Homo sapiens: one gene and its partners. The protein of the gene in region 2 interacts with the protein of the main gene of each other region in a biochemical or structural test. Each region holds a gene or a part of one and is shown on either strand. Other genes may lie near its edges.

The links.
Region 1: the proteins of CD244 (region 2) and SH2D1B interact in a biophysical measurement, tested with the Homo sapiens proteins (one study listed by IntAct).
Region 3: the proteins of CD244 (region 2) and PLCG2 interact in a biophysical measurement, tested with the Homo sapiens proteins (one study listed by IntAct).

What each region holds. Positions count from the first base shown.
Region 1 is NC_000001.11:162,398,400-162,402,150, forward strand, and holds part of SH2D1B (SH2 domain-containing protein 1B), read right to left. Parts: intron 689-3,751; coding exon 524-688; intron 1-523. UniProt on the Homo sapiens protein: Cytoplasmic adapter regulating receptors of the signaling lymphocytic activation molecule (SLAM) family such as CD84, SLAMF1, LY9 and CD244. In SLAM signaling seems to cooperate with SH2D1A/SAP.
Region 2 is NC_000001.11:160,856,236-160,859,986, reverse strand, and holds part of CD244 (natural killer cell receptor 2B4 isoform 1 precursor), read left to right. Parts: intron 1-3,751. UniProt on the Homo sapiens protein: Heterophilic receptor of the signaling lymphocytic activation molecule (SLAM) family; its ligand is CD48.
Region 3 is NC_000016.10:81,782,140-81,785,890, reverse strand, and holds part of PLCG2 (1-phosphatidylinositol 4,5-bisphosphate phosphodiesterase gamma-2), read right to left. Parts: intron 1-3,751. UniProt on the Homo sapiens protein: The production of the second messenger molecules diacylglycerol (DAG) and inositol 1,4,5-trisphosphate (IP3) is mediated by activated phosphatidylinositol-specific phospholipase C enzymes. It is a crucial enzyme in transmembrane signaling.

The DNA of each region.
Region 1 (3,751 bases), 1.5 Mb from region 2:
TATAATTTGAGAGGCTTAGGCAGGGATTCTCTGCACTCAGATTTACTGACCATCTCTCATTTTCCACTACGGCTTAATGCCTTTAAAAATGTATCTGACATAATTTGACACCCAGCACTTTATAAATGAATGCTTAGCAAATATTGAGCAAAGTGTAACAGTATACGCTTTGGGGAGGGCTTGAAGGGCTAGAGTGATTTTCTCATTTGAAAATCTGCCCATTTGCCCATTTATTCTCAAACTTGAATCGTCTGCACAAGGTCACAGAATGAATTTGAAGTCAGCTGTCTGCCCAGGAACCACTCTTGCTATCCTGGCTGCAAACGCAGCAAGCTCTCTGTCTTGGCCCTCAGGGACTAAAAGACAGCACTTCTCAACAAAATGGAAATTGCTCTTAGTAGGATGAAGCTTTTTAGAGATAATGTCACAGAAAAGAGCATTTGTCTGTATTGAGTTTACAAAGTAAGGCATTGGTGGAAATAGGATTAAGATTGCTTTCTGACCCCCACGTGAGAGATTTTACCACAAATGTTTCCAACTCTAATTTCAATCCTCTCCATCTCAAGCTGGGGCTGGTTCTCTTTATTGGCTTTAAAAGGTGAACCACCATCCCCTGATTTGGTTTTTCAAATTTGGAGATCAGTTCCTTTAGGCTTGGAAAGACCTGTTTTGGAGAACCTTCTGCAGTCTGCAAAAATACAAGAAAGGAAATCACTCATTATCATGCAATTGCGTGTGAAATGTGACACTTCTCAAAGCAGTGGGTTTTCAGGGCTGCCCTTCTATGAGCTGAAAAACTGAAAACAAGTGGCTGGAGCTCACACCACTCCCAGTTCACAGAAACTCTCATTTCTAAGACCAACCTCTGACTTGAGCCACTCTGAGTAAAGAGGATTTGCAATCAAGGGATCCCAGCGCAGTCCATAGTATCAAGTGAACCCCATCCTTGGGAAGTTTACCTGGGGCAGTTCTCGCAGATACACTGTGAAGGGTACCCCTGTAAGGGCTTACGTCTGTACCTACAGGCGGGCTTTGCTATCTTAAGGGACTATCGGAAGTGGACTTCTGATGGGAATGCAAAAATGCAATTAAAAAAAATTCCAACTGTTATTTTAAGTTCAGGGGTACATGTGCAGGATGTACAGGTTTGTTACATAGGTAAACGTGTGCCGTAGTGGTTTGCTGCACAGACCATCCCATCACCCAGGTATCAAGCCCAGCATTCACTAGCTATTCTTCCTGATCCTCTCCCTCCTCCCACCCTGAGCCCTCCAACAGGCCCCTGTGTGTGTTGTTCTCCTCTGTGTGTCCATGTGTTCTTATCATTCAGCTCCCACTTACAAGTGAGAACATGCAGTATTTGGTTTTCTGTTCCTGCATTAGTTTGCTAAACATAATGGCCTCCAGCTCCATCCATGTCCCTGCAAAGGACATGATTTCATTCTTTTTTGACCTAAGCTCCTTTCTGATCCCCATGTGAGAGATTTTACCATAAATGCTTCCAACTCTAATTTCGATCCTCTCCATCTCAAGCTGGGGCTGGTTCTCTTTATTGGCTTTAAAAGGTGAACCACCAGCCTCTGATTTGGTTTTTCAAATTTGGAGAACAGTTAGGCTGCTTAGTATTCCATGGTGTATATGTACCACATTTTATTTATCCAGTCTATCACTGATGGGCATTTAGGTTGATTCCATGTCTTTAAAATATGCATTTTGTATACTTTATGAATTTAAAATACACAATTTGTATACTTGATGAATTCACAATCTCCATGTGGGCAAAACAAAACCAAAAAAGTCCCAATGTAAATAGAAAGTGGGAATGGCAACACAACTCAGTTAAGTTGTAAATAGATGTTTTCTGTTTACCAGCTATACACCACGTACTTTTTTTTTTTTTTTTTTTTTTTGAGACGGAGTCTCACTCTGTGGCCCAGGCTGGAGTGCAGTGGTGTGATCTCAGCTCACTGCAAGTTCCGCCTCCCGGGTTCATGCCATTCTCCTGCCTCAGCCTCCCAAGTAGCCGGGATTACAAGCACCATCACCATACCTGGCTAATTTTTTTTTTTTTTTTTTTTGTATTTTTAGTAGAGATGGGGTTTCACTGTGTTAGCCAGGATGGTCTCGATCTCCTGACCTCATGATCTGCCTGCCTCAGCCTCCCAAAGTACTGGGATTACAGGCGGGAGCCACCATGCCTGGCCCACCAAGCACTATTTTCTAATATAACCTTTTAGAAATAATTTTAAAATGAAAAGAATTTTCTGGCTAGGCTCAGTGGCTCATGCCTGTAATCCCAGCCCTTTGGGAGGCCAAGGTGGGTGGATCACTTGAGGTCAGGAGTTTGAGACCAGCCTGGTCAACATGGCAAAACTCCGTCTCTACTAAAAATACAAAAAATTAGCTGGGCATGGTAGCAGACGCCTGTAATCCCAGCTACTCGGGAGGTTGAGCCAGGAGAATCGCTTGAACCAGGACGCGGAAGTTGCAGTGAGCCGAGATCACGCCACTGCACTCCAGTCTGGGTGACAGCAAGACTCTGTCTTACACACCCACACACACATGAATTTTCTTCCTCTACTTTTGTGTATTTGGTTTTCTTGATCGTCACTGTGGTTTTCATATGGCCACCAAGTCAGACTAGAGAAAGGGGTTGGTGATCAGAAGGTTTTCTGATATGCGCCTGATTAACCTCTGTATTAGAGGTACAGGCTGACATCAAAGTCATCTGCAAGGAGGTTCCTTTAATGCAGTCATTTCAACAAAAGGCATCACTGCAGGCTTCTAAGCTCAAAGCTGCTCCCCAGTGAAACGCCTCTTTGTGTCTGAGTTACAAATGATTTGGATGTCTCCCTCTATTTTGTCCACACAAGAGACAAAACAGGGTACTGAGGAATTATCCAGAATTTCCCAAAGAATAAACAGAAAAAAAAGTCTTAAAATAAGTTGCTTTTTATAAGACATTTTATCTTGAAATTATTTCAGACATAGCAAAGTTGCAAAAATAATTTTTAAAAATTACCATATATTTCACCCACACCCCAATGTTAACATTTTATTATATTTGCTTTTTATTCTCTTTCCAAATATATACACATATATTGTGCATGTATATATACACATATATATAAGCTATTTTCAAAGTTAATTTGCAGACATAATATCCCTTTAAATACTTCAGTATTTCTTCAAAAGTAAGGATATTACATAACCATACTACAATGATTAAAATCAGGAAATTAACCTGGATACAGTACTATTTGTTAATCTTATTCAAAATTTGAATTTATTCAAATTTTGTCAACTGCCTCAATAATGTCCTCTATAGCAAAAGAAAAATAGTATAAGTGAGGTGTTTGGGGATCATTTTATATTCTAGTCTCTTTCAGATATTCAGAGTAAACATTAATATACTGAAGATTCTTAGAAATCTGTAGTCTCCTTAACCTTATATGTAAGTGTTTGAGAAAGATTATTTTAGGATTCTCTGTTAGCAGTTATGTTTATTATACTCTACTTCTTAAGCCAGAGAACTAAATTTAAAAGAAGCAAAATGTTTTTCTGCTTAGCTCTCAGTAAACCAGAAAAATTAAACAAACCCTAAGACTTTCAGCTATCTGATGCTTCCCACTATATTTTCGTACAACTATTGGGCACACTTGACTCCCTAAACACTCTGACCTCTTTCCACCGTCCCTTTCTAGCTCCATCTTGCATCATTGTTGAGTCTTCTAATTCAACGGAGGTTTTG
Region 2 (3,751 bases):
GATCCACCCACCTCCGCCTCTCAAAAGTGCTGGGATACCAGGTGTGAGCCACTGTGCCCGGCCTATTATTATTTTTCAAGAGAGGATCTGGTTCTTTCACCCAGACTGGAGTGCAGTGGCATGCTCACGGCTCACTGTAGCCTCGACCTCGCAGGCTCAAGCCATCCTCCCACCTCAGCCTCCCTGGTAGCTGGAACTAGAGGTCTGTGCCACCATGCCTGGCTAATTTTTTTTTTTTTTTTTGTAGATACAGGGTTTCCCCATGTTGCCCAGGGTGGTCTTGAACTCCCGGGCTCAGGCGATCCACCTGCCTCAGTCTCCCAAAGTGGTGGGACTACAAGTGTGAGCCATCATGCCTAGCCATCATATGCATTTTTAAAATTATTTTTTCTTTAAAAAAATTTTTTTCTGTGCCCATTGACAGCAGATATTATATGCATTTTTGACAGGAATACCACAAAAGTGATACTGTGTCTTTTTCAGCGCATCCCATCAGGAGTCATATGATGACAGTGAAATTTAAAAAACCACTTTGTTTACTGAATAATTTAACAGGAGTACTATTTATGTAAGATGTGCATATAACTCTTGAGCATTGCGAAATTCTTCCAAAGACTTCTTCTTTCATGCAGAGTAAAAGCCATGCATTTTACAATGGTGCGTGACCTGGCGTCCAAGACCCACTCCTCTTTGTCTCTCCTCTTGCTCACAGCATTTCAGCCATGTTGCCTGCTGGTCCTGGACCTCGCTCTCTGTTGTATCCACAGTTTTCTCTGCCTGGGATGCTGCTCCTTTGCTGGCTACATGGCCTCTTCCCTCAACCCCTCAGAGTTTTGCTCAAATACCTCCTTTTCAGTGATGCCTTCCCCACTGAAAATGTCAGCCTGCCATTCTGCAAACTCTTAGCTCTCTCTCCACTTAATTTTTCTCCATAGTCCTCATCTCCATTTATGTTCCATCCTGTTTACTTATGTTTTTCATTTTCTGTCTCCCAGTCTCCTCTTCAGCCCCCTAGACTGTAAGATCCTTGAGGCCAGGGCTTTTGTCTGTTTTGCTCACCGTTGTCTCCTCAACATCTAGAGCAGTACCTGCCACAAGTCAACCCTCAGTAGATACTTATTTTCACAATAGCAGCCCCCTCTCTGTTCCCATTCTTTCTCTGGATATATTTTGAATAGCTCTGAACCAGGGCTATTGAGGATTCAGTGGCAAGTAAGTCCAGGGCCCGTTTGTTCAGAGAGCTTGCGCTAGATTGCCTGAGTCACTGTTACTACAGTTGTGATTAGTGCCTGGTGCAGTGCCAATGCAGTAGGTGTTCAAAACATGTTTGTTGAGTGAATAAGTGAATTATTTTCAGGCATCTTAACGGGCAGCCTGGGATGTTTTTTGGGTTAGACATATTGGGAAGGAGGGATCTTCAAATCATTGCCCAGGGAATAGGCCTGGGCCCTAAAATTCATTTTAGACCCAAAATTCAGGTTTCAGTTGTCCGTTCTGAGGAAACCCCAAAGGACACACAGGCTGGAGGCTATGAATCCCCAGATGCTTTACAGCCTGAGTTGAGATCTGCTGGACAATAAAAGGGCACAGGTGACACCTTATAGATTAGCTCCAAGGGTTGCCAGCTGTTTGCGTAGATTGTGTTGGAACTGTCACTTCTCAGGGAGTGGTGTCTAACTGCGACTGCTTTGGCTGGGATCCAGGCAAGCTGTAGAAGGGCTGGAGTCGTTTTTGCTCTTCTCTTCCTCATTGCACCTCCCCTCCAACAAAGGGTGAATGGCAAAGTAGCTGGACACAGAAAAGAGATTGGAATTCAATGTACCCTGGGCTACAGCACCATCCAGAAAGGAATCCACTGAAATCACTTCAAGGAGAGACAGGGCATGTCTTGTTTTTTTTTTTAATTTTTTATTTTTATTTATTTATTTTTATTTTTTTGTGAGACAGGGTCTTGCTCTATCACCCAGGCTGGAGTGCAGTGATGTGATCACAGCTCACTGTAGCCTTGACCTCCTGGGCTCAAGCAATCCTTCTGCCTCAGCCTCCTTAGTAGCTGGGACTACAGGCATGTATCACCACACTTGGCTTATTTTTAATTTTTGTGTAGAGATGGGGTTTTGCTATGCTGCCTGGGCTGGTCTTGACCTCCTGGGCTCAAGCAATCCTCTTGCCTTGGCCTCCCAAATTACTGGGATTACAGATGTGGGCCACTGTGCCCAGCCAGGCCATTGTCTTCACAGACAAACCTCTCTTATTGAAGTGCAACATACAGAAAAGTACACAAAATTACAAATGTACATCTCAATGAGCTATTGTTAAATGAACACACTCTTGTGTCTACCACATGTTCTCTCCCATTCATTACTTCCTCTGTCTTCCATAAATATAGCCACAATTCTGACTTCTAACATCACAGATTTGTTTTGTCCGTATATATGGAATCAAACGGTATGCACTCTTGTGTCTGACTACTTTTGCTCAACATCTTATGAGATTTATGTATGTTATTATTTGTAGCAGATCATTTTCATGGCTGTATAGTATTTTATCGCATGACTATATCATAGTTTATTCACCTTTTCTATTATTGATGAACCTTTGGGTTGCTTTCAATTTTGTTTTTGCTATTATAATAATGCTGTGATGAGCCTTTTGTGCATGCATGTCTGTTGGGTATATCTCTAGGGGCAGAACCATGGAGTATGTGTACGTAACTCTAGCAGATGCTGTCAAACTGTTTTCCAAAGTGGTTGAACCAAATAGTGCATGAGAGTTCCATGCTGCTTTGGGGCCACTGGCTTTTGGTTCTGAAGGTCTGCAGATGGAAAATTAAATTGTGGAAATGTGGAGCTTGGCAAGAGGCCAAAGGCAAGGGAATTACAGCTCTGTGATTTCTCTGGTATCCTGCATGAAATTCTGACAATAGAGTCATTTTTAGGAGTTATGTGAGATGCATTGTTGAATTAATTAATTTAAACGGATTCATGAAGCCCTTGCTTGGGTTGTTCATTTTGCTGTTGTGACGTTTGAATTTCTTGTCTATTCTGCATATTAGTTGCCTGTAGGATTCATAGTTTGCAATTTTTTTTCCTATTCTATTGGTTGCCTTTTCACTCTGTGAATTGTTTCCTTTACTGTACATGATTTTTTTTTAGTTTGCTGTAATACCATTTGTTTATTTTGCTTCTGTTGCCTGTGCTTTTGAGGTCTTATTCATAAACTCTTTCCCCAGCCCTTATTATGCTCCAAGAACTATGCAAGGTTTTGTGGGGGAAACAAAGATGAAACAGATGTCTATTCTACCCTTAAGAATCTTTCAGACAGAGGAAAATGGGTATGTATAATTACAACTATAAGGGAAGATGGAAATGCTATGTGTCATTAACAGGCAAGATACATTTAGAATAAAAAAGGAGCTAAGAAGATGAAGATTCCTTCTAGGTAGGAACACTGGGGAACTGGCCTTGAAGAATAAATAAGAGTTTAGGAGGTAGGTACAAAGTAGAAGGACAATTGAAGCAGAGGAAACAGCTCAGAAAAGCCAGGGTTGCATGGGGTTTGGATGGGAAACAGGAAAGGGAGATGCACTTGTTATCATGGAGAAACAATATCACATATGAGATGATTTGGTTAACTGATGCAAAGAGTGGGACTTGGGCTAGGTGAGTTTTGACAGAGGTAAGGGAGTTGCATTGCCTGAGGAAGAGAGTTAATATGGTCAGTATGAAGCTAAATAGAGAGGAAGAAAGAA
Region 3 (3,751 bases), on a different chromosome or scaffold from region 2:
GTTAACAGGGCATGAACTTCAGGAACCAAAATCCTGTCTCATGTCAATCAGGATGAGTTTTAGGAGAAGGTTCTAGTGGCAAGGCATCGCTGGCCACTCAGAGAGCTAAGGCAGGACACAAAGGTTTAAATGGAAACTGAAGTGTGAGAAGAGCCCCTGACCTCAAGGACCCAACCGTTACGTGGGCTTTGAATAACCAAATCACCCTGACCTGGCAGTGAGTCCCCTCTCTCCCCACCCACTCTTATCCTAAAGAATATTTGAATAGCCAAAGCAGCCCAGCCTGGCTCCCACCTCTCACCCCTAATCTCCAACATCCTTCTCTATCCTGTCTAGAGATTTCTAACCATCTCTTTATTCCTGAGCAAAATTAAGAACAAAAAAAAAAAAAAAATGAAATAAACGAAAAACAAACTAAACCTTCAGAATCATCCATGGAGACTTTGGCAAATGGTTCCTCTGCATAGAAATGAGGATGAAAGGCAGGAAATGTCAGGTCTTGGCAGCTTCACGTTCAAACCCTAGAGAAGGTTCCTGCTGACTGTGTAGCTCTGGGTAGACTGCTTGACCTCTCTGTGCCTCAGTTTTAGCCTTTTTAAAATGGGAGTGTTCAGAAATGCCCCAGCAAAGCACCTGGGGTGACGGCCAGCACCTAGGAGGTGTCCTTGATTGCTGTTTATGCTTGTGGGTGGTCAGTGTCAGAGAGGTGCTTGGGCCCAAAACCTTGGAGGAATCCTTGCGTGGACTCTCTCACGACCACTTCCAACGCATCTCACCCTTTCACCGGCTCCTCCTAGGATCTCATACTTGAACTATTCTAATCCTGCTCTCCCCACTTCTTCCCTGACCTGCTAGGGTCAATTCTCAGATGCAGAGCCAGAAGGATCCTTTTAGAACATGAATCAAATCATGTCACTCCTCTGCTCAAAATCCCTTAGTCCCTCCCTGAGCCCTCACTCTGTACCATTCCCTCATTCTGCCTCCCAAATCCCCAGAAACACATTGCCTGCCCCCAAAATAGGACTTAGAGTGAAGGCGCTCCCCAGGCCCTGGAGCTGAACCACCAGGGACCCCCTTGCCAGCTAGGCTGCAAGAAGTCACTTAGATCCTCTGGGCTCATTTCCAGTCCCATAAAAGAAGGTAACAGTATCCACCATCTAAATGTTTTTGTAAGGCTTAAACAAGATAATGTATCTCAGGCCCTTAAAACAATGATACAAAGTCAGCACTCCTTAGATTAAGCTATTGTTAAAATTACCATTATTTGTTCTGTTTCTTATCTCCTCCTTTCCCTCCAAGTCCCTGGAGGTGCCTGGAGTTGTTACTCTGTAGCTCTCAAGGTTACAGAGTAGCACTAGAGAGACCCTCCCAGGATCCAAAGAAGGAGGAGTGAGAGGCTGGTGTTCAGCCAGGGCTGTCTGTGCTTCCAGCCGGGCTCAGCCTTCTGCCAAGCTGCTCTAAATCTGTGGCTCGGTTCCCTCATCTGTAAAATGGAGGTTAAATGCCCACAAGGGGCAGCTGGGAAGACAAAAAGCTACAATGTATGCACAGCCTGCAGCATTTACCAGGGTCTCAGTTAGCATTAATCAGCCATTGGGGAAGGCATTAATCAAATGTCAACTCTATGCCAGGCACTGAGGTGGGGACTAGGATGCAAATGAGGGGAATGGGGAGGGGCCCAGGATTTGCCCTTTGCCCCCACCTCCCTCTACTGCACACCCATACCAAAGGGACCTCCTCGGTCAGCCATGCCAGCAGCAGGAGATAATTACACCTGCTCTCTGCCCATGGGGAAACAGACTAATCAACTGAGAATTCTAATGTAGTTACAAGTGCAGCAGCAGAAGCATGCACTGGGGGCACGGCGGGCAGAGAGCAGCAAGAAGGAATCCTAAATTTAATCTGGAGTGTGGCTAGGCACTTAAAGGGCTCAGAAAAAGCTTTCAGGGGAAAAAAGCAGGCATCTGAACTCAATCTTTCAAAAAAGATGAAGCAGGAGGAACTGGCTTTAAGTTTAAGCAAAGGCTAGGAGGCAGAACAGAGTATGCTAAAAAAAAACCCTGCTGAGAGTTAATGTGCATCTTACCTTATCAGGAGAAACCCAAAATGACCTCCTGATCATTAGCCAGGACAAAGGGATGAACAAGGTGCCCCCATGGTCCATTTCATCCTTGTTAAGCAGCCATTTATTGGGCCCTTCCCCAGGTGCCAAGCACCTGTTGTGTCTGGTTCGTCTCATTTATCTCAATGGGAAATACGGCAGCGGAAAACTGAAATCCCAAGAGGTCACATTACTTGATCAAAGTCATGTAGACCAGCAGCAGCACAAAGATCAAAACCCTCACCTGAGTCCCAAGCCCCTAGTCCAGAATCCTGTGGCAGCATCTGGCCAGATATTAACTGATTTGCCAGTACTTGCCACTCTCAAAAGAGGTTAAGGGACTTATCCGAGGTCACACAGATAGAAAGTAGCAAAACGAGTTAATGGGTGCAGCACACCAACATGGCACGTGTATATATATGTAACAAACCTGCACGTTGTGCACATGTACCCTAAAACTTAAAGCATAATAATAATATAATAATAAAATTTTAAAAAAGTAGCTGAAACTGGATTTGACCCAGCTGCCAACCACAGAGCTCTTCACTATGTTGACTGTTCCCAGCCATGCATCCTGGAGTTCCCCACTCCCAGGTCTCTAGGCCATAGTCCACTGGAACATAAGTAGGAAACACAAGCCCCATTATAACACCTTCAATTAGACAGAAACCAGGACAAGGGACCAGGCTCCTCAGTTCTTTCCAGCCCTCACTCTGGGAGGGCCTTGGACTTAACCTTCCCCAGGGTCCCAGTTACTTCCAGCTTCGAAGCCCAGTGGATCAACTCAGCCATAAACACCAGACTTCCATGCTGCGTCTCACCAATTGCTTTGTAATAGCTGCTCACAGGTTGCCCTAAAGGAGCAGGGGTGGAATTTACACTCTCACCTGCAGTGGCTGACACCGTTCCTTTGAAAACACTGTATCCCCTCTGATGCTGCAGGGTGGGTGTAAGGTGCAGCAGTAATGTCCATTCAACTGTTGGAGGGGCCCTTACCACTCAAGTATTTGCCTGTGCCCCATTTTAACAGAATCGTTTTGTGGGATTTTGGATGAAATCCTGTACTGGCTTAACATGCACAGAGCACTGAAGAGAAAAACTTCCTTGATTTCTGGTTTGGGGTTCTTGTATCTCACGAAATGCCCTTCTAAATAAGCTTGTGAGATACAAGAACATGAATGAGCTTATGAGATGCAATTGGAAACAGATCTTCACGGCCAAAAGATCCCTGGAGTCCACCATTCAAATCCTGCCAGCACCCAGCTCAGGTCTCCAGCGTTCCACGCTTTATCAACTATGGCAGGGAGGTCTCCAAGACCTTGAGCCCAGGAGAGAGCACCAGCCACCACAGCAACTTCCATTTTGCTTCTGCTTTTTTTGGTTTTTTCAAAAAAAGAAAAAAAAAAGCCTTGAAATCCCTTTTTTGTTCCTGTTTCCCATTCTTAATGGGTAATTCTATAAAATGACTTATTTTGTAAATACAAATATGGCTGAGTTTGAATAACTGATTTTTGCCATTTTTACATTTCATGTCCTTCTAAAGGTTTTTCTTGTATCTCATAAGCTCATTCATGTTCTTGTATCTCATAAGCTTATTTAGAAAGGCATAAAATGGGCCAGGCACGGTGGCTTATGACTGTAATTCCAGCA